Regions from separate parts of the Homo sapiens genome. Here region 1 is linked to region 2. The links come from fine-mapping of genetic effects on gene expression. A gene starts in region 2. The other region holds a variant in brackets. All regions are shown on one strand. Distances are between the middles of the regions.

Region 1 (4,372 bases), 77 kb after region 2:
CTGAGAGCGAGGGAGGGCAGCCGGCCAGGGGGACAGTTGGTTCTTAGCAATCCTAAAGGCCCTTCATGCAGCCTAGGTAACTTGAGGCTCACATTAACATGTACTTATCTGTTTCAGAATATCTGAAAAAAAAAAAAAGGCTTTTTCTGGAAAAATGCTGCTGTAAGAAAAGATTACAACTTGTTTTTCTTTGTTTTATACTAAAGGTTACTGCCGTTTCTCAGCCATACCAATAGTGCCTGTGACTTTATTTCCACTTGGAACCTTCCAGGGCCCTGGAGTTATCAGTGTTTTCTTAACTGGAGAACTGCTTTCCGGTTTGAACCTTCCAGTCTCTTTGTTTTTGTCAGCTGCCTCTAGTTCTTTCCCTTTGTGATCTTCTGTTTTGTTTGAAACTACCTTCTCTTCAGGTTCTTGCTTCAGCCTCTTTTCTGATAGCTGGACATTTTCTCCTATTTTATCGTTACTAGAACTTGTTTCTCCTGTGGTTACTTTCTTTCCTTTTTCATTTTCAGATACTTCTTTACTTGTAGTCTTATTAGTCATTTTGGATGGAAGAGATTTCTCAACCATTCTTTTGATTTTTTTCTCTGGAGACCTTGTTCTGCTTTTTTCCAACTGATTCTGCTTTGCATCTTTCCTGATGACGTCTGATTTTTCCTTCCCATCTGGGATCTGCTCAGCATTACTGCCCGTATAGCCTGCTATTCTTCGACTCTTACCCTCTAATAATTTGGCCTCAGCATTTGATGGAGCTTTGCTTCCTTCAATTTTTTGCTGCTTTTTTGGGCTGGCCGACCGACCTCTGCTTTTTCTGCACTGATCTTGTCCAGAGCCTGCCCTGGTGCTGACCTGACAACTTTTATTTTCCCCTTTGCTGGGGCTGAGGGATTGATCTCTGGGTCTTCTTTTGGGGTTATTTTTTAGAGGACTAGGAATCTTATCCAAATGTTCCTCTGAATGTTGACTGGCTGGCTTTTTGGGACTAACCGATCTACCTCTTCGTGTAACACCATTTTCTACTTTTAATAGATTTTTCTTGTTACTGTGCCCATGACTGCTGGGTGGATCCCTCTTACTCACATTTTTCTGGAGAAGAGACTGATGCTTTATCTCAGGCTGATTTTCATTTAAAGTGCTTTTCTTTTCAGGCACAATGTCCTTTAATTCTTCTGCCTTTTCACATATCTGAACTCTCAAAGATTCTTCAATTACTGGCACGTGAGACTCTTCAAATATGGAAGCAAAATGTGAAGATGGGGGTAATGGTGACTGTTCATCATAAATCACATTTGAAGACGAAGGATTATTAATATCCCAATCACCTAAAAAAGTGATTTGAATGGAACATTATTAAATTTTAGAATTACAAATAGGAACAATACGTTTTGAACTTTGACAGCCATTTGAATTGTCGTAACTGCTTAAAAAGCCTGAGTATTTTATACAGTTTGTATATGTTTACAACATATCTCTCTATAAAGGCGGATGTGTACAGACATCTGTTCATACATGAAGGATGGGTTGTTTATATACACAAAATAATATTCATTTTTTCCAATTACATATAATTAGTGAGATAATATATGATCTGTAAATTCTCTATTAGTAAAGCCCAATTAGAACTTACAAGTTATAAAGCTGAACCAAATTACGTGGCCCAAGAAGCTCACTAATTATTATGAATTGATACAGTTTAGGATATGGCAAAATCACTAATTAATAAAGGAAACCAAACTGTGGTAACCAGAATGAGGCTCATGGGCATTTGTAATAATTCTCTTGCATTAAGCTGTCAAATTTAATGTCAAAAGAAGACTGAAAAGTGCAGAAGATAGAAATAGATGTATTTAATAGCATCATTTTTAATTTAAAAGAAAACAAAAGAAGAAAGTGATTTACAAGACATGCAAATTTACCAAGTCTTTTTAAGGAAAGACCAAGAAAAGCCCTGAAAGCCTTAATGTTGCTCGGGTTTCACGTAGGAGCACAGACCGGAAGGAGCCAAACCTGAAGAGGGAAGAGAAAAAGCCTAGGACTATGTGAAAAAAAAAAAAAAAA[T/AT]CAGTGCAGTTAGCAAAGATGTCACTGGGAACATATGATTTACAAGCAGATGGTGGAAGATAATACAGTCAGAGAATCATAAGCTGGAAGGGTACTGTAGGAGGTTATGTCTACACTTATCCCTCAAAAGCGGTGGGGTGGGGTGGGGTAGGGCAGGAGGTGGGGAGCTAGATGAGGCAAGTACTGCGTGGGTGTGGTACTGCCTTTATTTCTAGAATAGTGCACTCAAAAAACAGTGACTTTCAAATACCATGATATTTCAAAACATGCCATGGAAACCCAGGAAGTTTAACATTAATACAGGACAGAAATGGTCTCAGGTCCAACTCCCTGTCTCCAGGTAGGGTGATAGCAACTTGTTTTTGCCGAGTCACCAGAAAAGCCTAAGTTTTCATGCTGCGCATTCATTATAATATAAACTTATCTTGCTTTACAGAAATAAAAATATTGGTTGGTAATGTGTAATTAGCTAAGTAAGAGAAAAAGCTGGGATATTTTGAAGAGATTTAAAACATTTTTTATGGTATTTAAATTGTTTGCCTCTAATACACTTTTTTAATAGGTACATTTCTCTACAAAAACAACTATATGTTTTTTCTGATTAAATTTAAAATACATTCCATTCCAACGAAAGTCCTGCCTAAGTCACTTGTTTTCTAATACTATTTATGATAACTCTGCTATGTAACTAGCTTTTCATGGTTCTAGCATTCACCTCTGAATTAACTAGTAAAATATCTATCCTCTCCAAATATATATTCCTTTTTCTTCTGTCCCCTCCCTAATATACAACTTTTCAGCTACTAGTGGGCTACTTTACTTACCATGGTCAGGTATCAAGCCAGTTCCTGGCCTCAAAAGAAGAAGAACTTTATTTCCACCAGCCTGAATGAGCTCAATTGCTCGAGTATGTGTGATTCCTTGTGTAGGTTCCCCATTGATTTCAACAATCTGGTCACCAACCTAGACAGAGAACATTCACAGGAACAACATGAAACTATGCATCCTTTGTAAATTCTGCTTTTGTCAGCTCTTGAGCCATTCAACCTTGCTAAGTGATTCTTTCGTTTGTAAAATACCTAACGTGTACCCAGTACTGCCATGTGAGAGTTGATGAGAGGACAGATGACAACAAACAACAGGAAGTGGCAATGTTCAGGTTTACTCACAAAAATCCTACACAGGAAAGTTTTATATGGCTACTAACTAAGATCTGGACATCTTGAAATCAAGAATCAAATTCTAGAATCAGATTTGGAATTTTCTAAATTTATAGAAATCAAATTTAGAATGTTAATCAAATTCTAGAATTTGGTTCTTGATTTGAAGATGCCCAGATCTTTAATAGCCATATAAAACTTTCCTGTGTAGGATTTTTTGTTTGTTTGTTTTGTTTTGCTTTTTGAGACGGAGTCTTGCTCTGTCGCCCAGGCTGGAGTGCAGTGGCGAGACCTCGGCTCACTGCAAGCTCCGCCTCCTGGGTTCACGCCATTCTACTACCTCAGCCTCCCGAGTAGTTGGGACTACAGGCGCCCGCCACCACGCCCGGCTAATTTTTTGTATTTTTAGTAGAGATGGGGTTTCACCGTGTTAGCCAGGATGGTCTCGATCTCCTGACCTCGTGATCCGCCCGCCTCAGCCTCCTAAAGTGCTGGGATTACAGGCGTGAGCCACCGCGCCCGGCCCTGTGTAGGATTTTCATAAGTAAACCTGGGCACTTGCTGTGTAGGGTTTTTATGCGTGAGTAAACCTGGACATTGTCTCTTCCTGTTGCTGCCATCTGTCCTCTTATCAACTCTCGCAGGAGAGCACTGGGTACATGTTAGACATTTTACAAACAACAATCCAAATGATACTACAGAGCTATGTCCGAATGTGAAGGGTACTTTCAAACTTGAGCTGAATTTTAAATATATCTCCTAAAACCTGGGCAGAGGGCTCTTATCTTTGAAGCCTTTCCTGGCCTCCAGGGAGAACTGCTCATTCCTTTGAACTGCTGCTATGTCCTGTACATACATGAGGTATTTGAATAAATGACATCTTTATAGATTAAAATTCTTAAAAACTTAAACTTGGAGAATAGATTAATATGAACACTTATTTAAAACCAGTAACTGGCATAAACTTAGTGATGTTAGTGTAAAATCATTTCTCAGGGCCAGGGATGGTGGCTCACACCTGTAATCCCAGCTCTCTGGGAGGCTGAGGCTGGTGGATCACCTGAGGTCGGGAGTTCGAGACCAGCCTGACCAACATGGAGAAACCCGGTCTCTACTAAAAATACAAAATTGGCCAGGTGTGGTGGCGCATG
Region 2 (4,391 bases):
AAGAAGGTGACTATCTCCATAATACAGGTGAGAAAACAGGCTTGTTAGTTGAATAAATTGCTTAAGATCACAGATTATTGGTTGGGAGCAAGGATTCAGACCTTGTTCGCTGGTAGCCGCAGGAAGCACTGAATAGTTTCCAACAGGGCACCTGAAAAATGGTTTACTACTTACCACTATTCTCTAATACTTCTTACCTGATTCAGTTCCTCCAGACACTCCCTGAAAATCTGTGTGCCAAACAGTGAAGTAAAGTACTTTTGCTATTAATGTAATTGAGGTTAAATATTTACGTGTGCAAAATTCGACGTTTTTCACTTGTCATTTATCTCTTTTTTCAAGTTGGCCATTTGTCTTGAAGCTCAACAGAATTGTAATGTTTAGCACTAAGGAAAGGAAAAGCTGTCAAGGAGCAAAAGCAGAAGGAAACCACTGCCAATGTGTGCAATATAAAAATAAGGGTAAAATAATTTTTACTTTATTTGAGACAGGTCTCTGTTGCCTAGGCCGAAGTGCAGTGGTGCAATCATAGCTCACTACAGCCTCGAACTCGTGGACTCAGACGATCCTCCTGCCTCAGTCTTCGAAGTAGCTGGGACTACAGGTGCGCGCCACCACCCCCGGCTAATTTTTTTTTTTTAAGAGACGGGGTCTGGCCATGTTGCTAAGGCTGGTCTCAAACTCCTGTGCTCAAGCTACATTTCCGCCTCAGGCCTCCCAAAGCGCCCAGATTGCAGGCGTGAGCCACTGCGCCCAGGCTGGGTGAAGTAATTTGTAAAACTTAGTCCTGTGGGAGTTATTTTAGCTTAGTCGATTTTCCTCATCCGTGAAATGGGATAACTTCCACCTGGTGCCCACTCAATAGATAAGAAGAAATAATGTCTGCAAAACATTGAGTACAGCGCCTCTTAGGCTTTCTTAAGTGAAGCTATCATCTGTCATTAGCTTTCTCTGACCCAGATGCTACACGCTGTGGGCTAGCAAGAACACGGCTTCAAATAAGGTGGGGAGAATGGCTGTAAGGGGACAGTGTTCCATTAATGGCCAAAAAAAAAAAAAAAAAAAAAGCAGCCTAAAAATCCTTTTAACGTATCCTTAAATATTCACTTGAGGGTTCAACCTTTCTTTCCTTTCTCCTGACCTCTATCGGCCCTAATTAACCTGTTCCTGCCGCCACCTAACTTTACCCTAATTTGGAAAAAGCTGTGACTGCCCAATACTTGTTCCTCTTTTCCCCCTACACCTTTGAGCACTAGAAAGCTCCAGACCCAGAGCTGCTGAGGGGCGGGAGAGGAAGGGAGTCACTAAGCCGCAGCCTGGCCCTTCCTCCCAGGGCAGCGTAAATTCACGCAAACATTGATTCGTTCGCTCAACAAACATTGGGAACCTAAGTGCCAGGCTTGTGCCAGGCCCCAGTCTCTGACCTCATGGAGCCCACAGCCCACTGGGGAACAGAGATTAAGCCATGAAACACGAAAATGAGTGCCACAAAGACGTGAGCTACTAGAGTATCAGGACCGACCTCCTTTAGACCGCTGGATGGGAGAGTCGTTTGTGAGGAAGTGACTTTTAAGCTGAGGCCTGAAGGGTGATCTGAGGGAGCTGCTCTTGGCCATCGATATGCCGCGCGACTCCCCAGGCCCTCGGACCCGGAGCCTGGACCAAGGCTGGGCGGGAAGGCCCCGGGCCAGGGGCGGAGCCACCTCGGCGGCGAAAGCCGGAAAGCGGAAGCCGAAGGCTGCTGCCCGGTGGTCGGCTGAGCGGCTCTAGCCCAGATCTCAGACGGCTGAGTCACTGCATCCCGGCGCGGCCCGCAGAAGACGAGCGCCGCTGCCGCCGCCTCCTCCTCCCGGGCTCCCGGGCTCTCGGGGTCCGGGGCCTTTGCACCTGTCTTTTCCAGCTGGGCACAAAGCCTTTTGCTGTCGCCGTGGCGACTGGAGGCCTTCACTTTTAATCCCCCTCATTTTCCAGTTCATTCTCTGCTTATTTTCTGGTCAGTCCGTGACCCTGTAGGCGGCCTCTGACCGGCGATCGATTTGCCGCCCTCAGGGCGCTGGGCGGCCGGCTGCCTCCGAAGCTGGGGCGGCCTCCGCGGTCTCCATGGTAACGGCCTCTCCGGCGTCTCCGCCTGGAGGGGAAGATGCGGCCTGCCTGGCCCGCCGCCTCGCCCCCGGCCTCACGGTGGGACCCCGGGCACTGAGGACGGAGGTCCCGGGCGCCGGCCCGCGGGGCAACGGGCACTAGGTGAGAGCCGGACGCGGGCGAGCGAAGGAGGCGGGTGCCGGGCGACTCCAGCGGCGGCCCCTGCCCCTCCCCCGCACCCACGAACACGCTCGCCCGATATATTGCAGAGGCTTCTCCGGTCGCCGCTGCGCCAGTTTTTTTTTGTTTGTTTGTTGTGTTTTCCCTGGCAAACAGCTGGAGAAAGAGCAGCTCATGGAGAGGCTGAGAGAAGCGGTTTTCGCGTCCTACCCAAACTGGGAGAGTAACCTTCAGCAGCTGGACTCACCGATTGGTTTTCCTTCATTTTCAGTGAAATCCCATTCTCTGGCTGGAGACACAGATGGCCTCAAATGAGAGAGATGCTATATCGTGGTACCAAAAGAAGGTAATACATATATATATTTTTTTTATTTGTAAAGCATTCTTCCTGCAAAAAGCTCCCACAAATAATATAATGTTACTTTCCCCCGAGTTTAGTAGTGCCAGGTGTTCATGTATACTTCAACATAAATGAAAAAAAAAAAAAAAAGATGTACAAGGTCATTATGTCTTTTAAACCCGGTTCCAGGTCCCAGAATAAGGTTTACAAGCCACCTCCTTCAGGCTGCATACACAATGCCACCGCAATGCTTTGAAAGTTTGCTTCTGATCAAACTGCTTAAAAACAAAAAAGACATGAAACCTGTATGTGCACAGCTCAGATTGATACTATCAACAATCTTATTGAGCTGTTCCTTATCTTTTATTCCTCTCTAGTTTTTCTAGTGCTCTTTTCCTTAAGAAGTGGATTTTTTTTTTTTTTTTTTTTTTTTGAGACGGAGTTTCGCTCTTGTTGCCCAGGCTGGAGGGCGATGGCGCGACCTCGGCTCACTGCAAGCTCCGCCTCCCGGGCTCAGCCTCTGGAGTAGCTGGGATCACAGGCGCCCACCACCACGCCCGGCTAATTTTTTGTATTTTTAGTAGGGACGGGGTTTCACCATGTTGGTCAGGCTGGTCTCAAACTACAGGCGTGAGCCACCATGCCCGCCCAAGAAGTGGAAATATCTTTTAAGGTAATATTAATTTGAAATATTTTGGGCATTGCTTTTGAACTTACTTTTAGGTCCAGCTATTTTAGATTTTTGAAGGAAACAGTCCTTCGAAGTATTGATTTATTCTAACTTTTGAGAAGCATATTTTCCACATAGCATATTGATACTTAATAGGCTCATGACTTTTATGAGGCTTGACTTAATAATGTAAGGATTTCCTTTGCATCGTTTAACTAATAGACTACTCCCTCTTTCAGATTGGAGCCTACGATCAGCAGATATGGGAAAAGTCAATCGAACAGACTCAGATTAAGGTAAATTGATTTCTTTGATTCCGCCTATGTTTCACTGCATTAATATGAAGAGTGGAATTGTACTTACCTGGTAAACTCTGCATTTAACTACCAGTATGGCATTCTTTAATCTTTGAAGGTTATAAGAAAAGCAGTGCAAGCATAATGAGAAGTGACACTTGATTTTTGGCCTCACTATCAGGAAAACAGAAAGGAGTGAGTTGTTCTATGATGAATTAGAGAGCAAATGTCCCATATAAATAGGGCTGGGGTTACTTAGCTCTGGCTAGTTTTTACCACTTGGCAGTGCAGGTCCAAATATTGCCAGAGTTTCAGATTTTTCAAGAGAAGCTGGAAATACACATTTTTATATGAAATATATTGTGCATTTTGTGTCGGATTTTTAAGAGACTCTTCCTTCTCTTCCTCCTCCTCCTTTGCAAGCCAAATAAAATCCATTTGTGGCCTGAATCCAGCCTATGGTCCCCCATTTTATTCAATCACTGGCTTAGAGTATGTGTTTTTGTTTGTTTTTTTGTTTTGTTTTGTTTTTGAGACAGAGTCTCACTCTGTCGTCCAGGCTGGAGTGCAGTGGCGTGATCTTGGCCCACTGCAAGCTCCGCCTCCTGGGTTCACGCCATTTTCCTGCCTCAACCTCCAGAGTAGCTGGGACTACAGGCGCCCACCACCACGCCCGGCTAATTTTTTGTATTTTTAGTAGAGACGGGGTTTCACTGTGTTAGCCAGGATGGTCTCGATCTCCTGACCTTGTGATCTGCTCACCTCCGACTCCCAAAGTGCTGGGATTACAGGCGTGAGCCACCGCGCCCGGCCTAGAGTATGG

Direction of the effects. Alleles are on the strand shown, and positions count from the first base shown. SD is a standard deviation of normalised expression in the study named.
With allele AT in place of T in region 1, the expression in monocytes after LPS of the gene that starts at base 1,781 in region 2 is higher (moderate effect, 0.58 SD a copy in Fairfax 2014).

What was found. PIP is the estimated chance that this variant, and not a neighbour inherited with it, causes the effect.
Region 1: its variant is the best candidate, but not a certain one, in a credible set for the expression of PHTF1 in monocytes after LPS (Fairfax 2014, PIP 0.78).

What each region holds. Positions count from the first base shown.
Region 1 is chr1:113,679,850-113,684,221 of GRCh38, reverse strand. It overlaps MAGI3 (membrane associated guanylate kinase, WW and PDZ domain containing 3), which reads right to left. Exons shown (of 21, transcript NM_001142782.2): 20 at 2,886-3,024; 21 at 1-1,325. The coding sequence ends at 208. Among named protein-coding and RNA genes, the nearest start is that of PHTF1, 77 kb to the left of the region's middle. RefSeq lists an enhancer at 2,799-3,337. The variant T/AT (reference allele first, on the strand shown) is at 2,062.
Region 2 is chr1:113,756,876-113,761,266 of GRCh38, reverse strand. PHTF1 (putative homeodomain transcription factor 1) reads left to right here and starts at 1,781. Exons shown (of 19, transcript NM_001323043.2): 1 at 1,781-2,244; 2 at 2,534-2,608; 3 at 3,512-3,568. The coding sequence starts at 2,564. RefSeq lists enhancers at 1,329-1,908, 4,187-4,391 and silencers at 2,059-2,378, 3,012-3,141.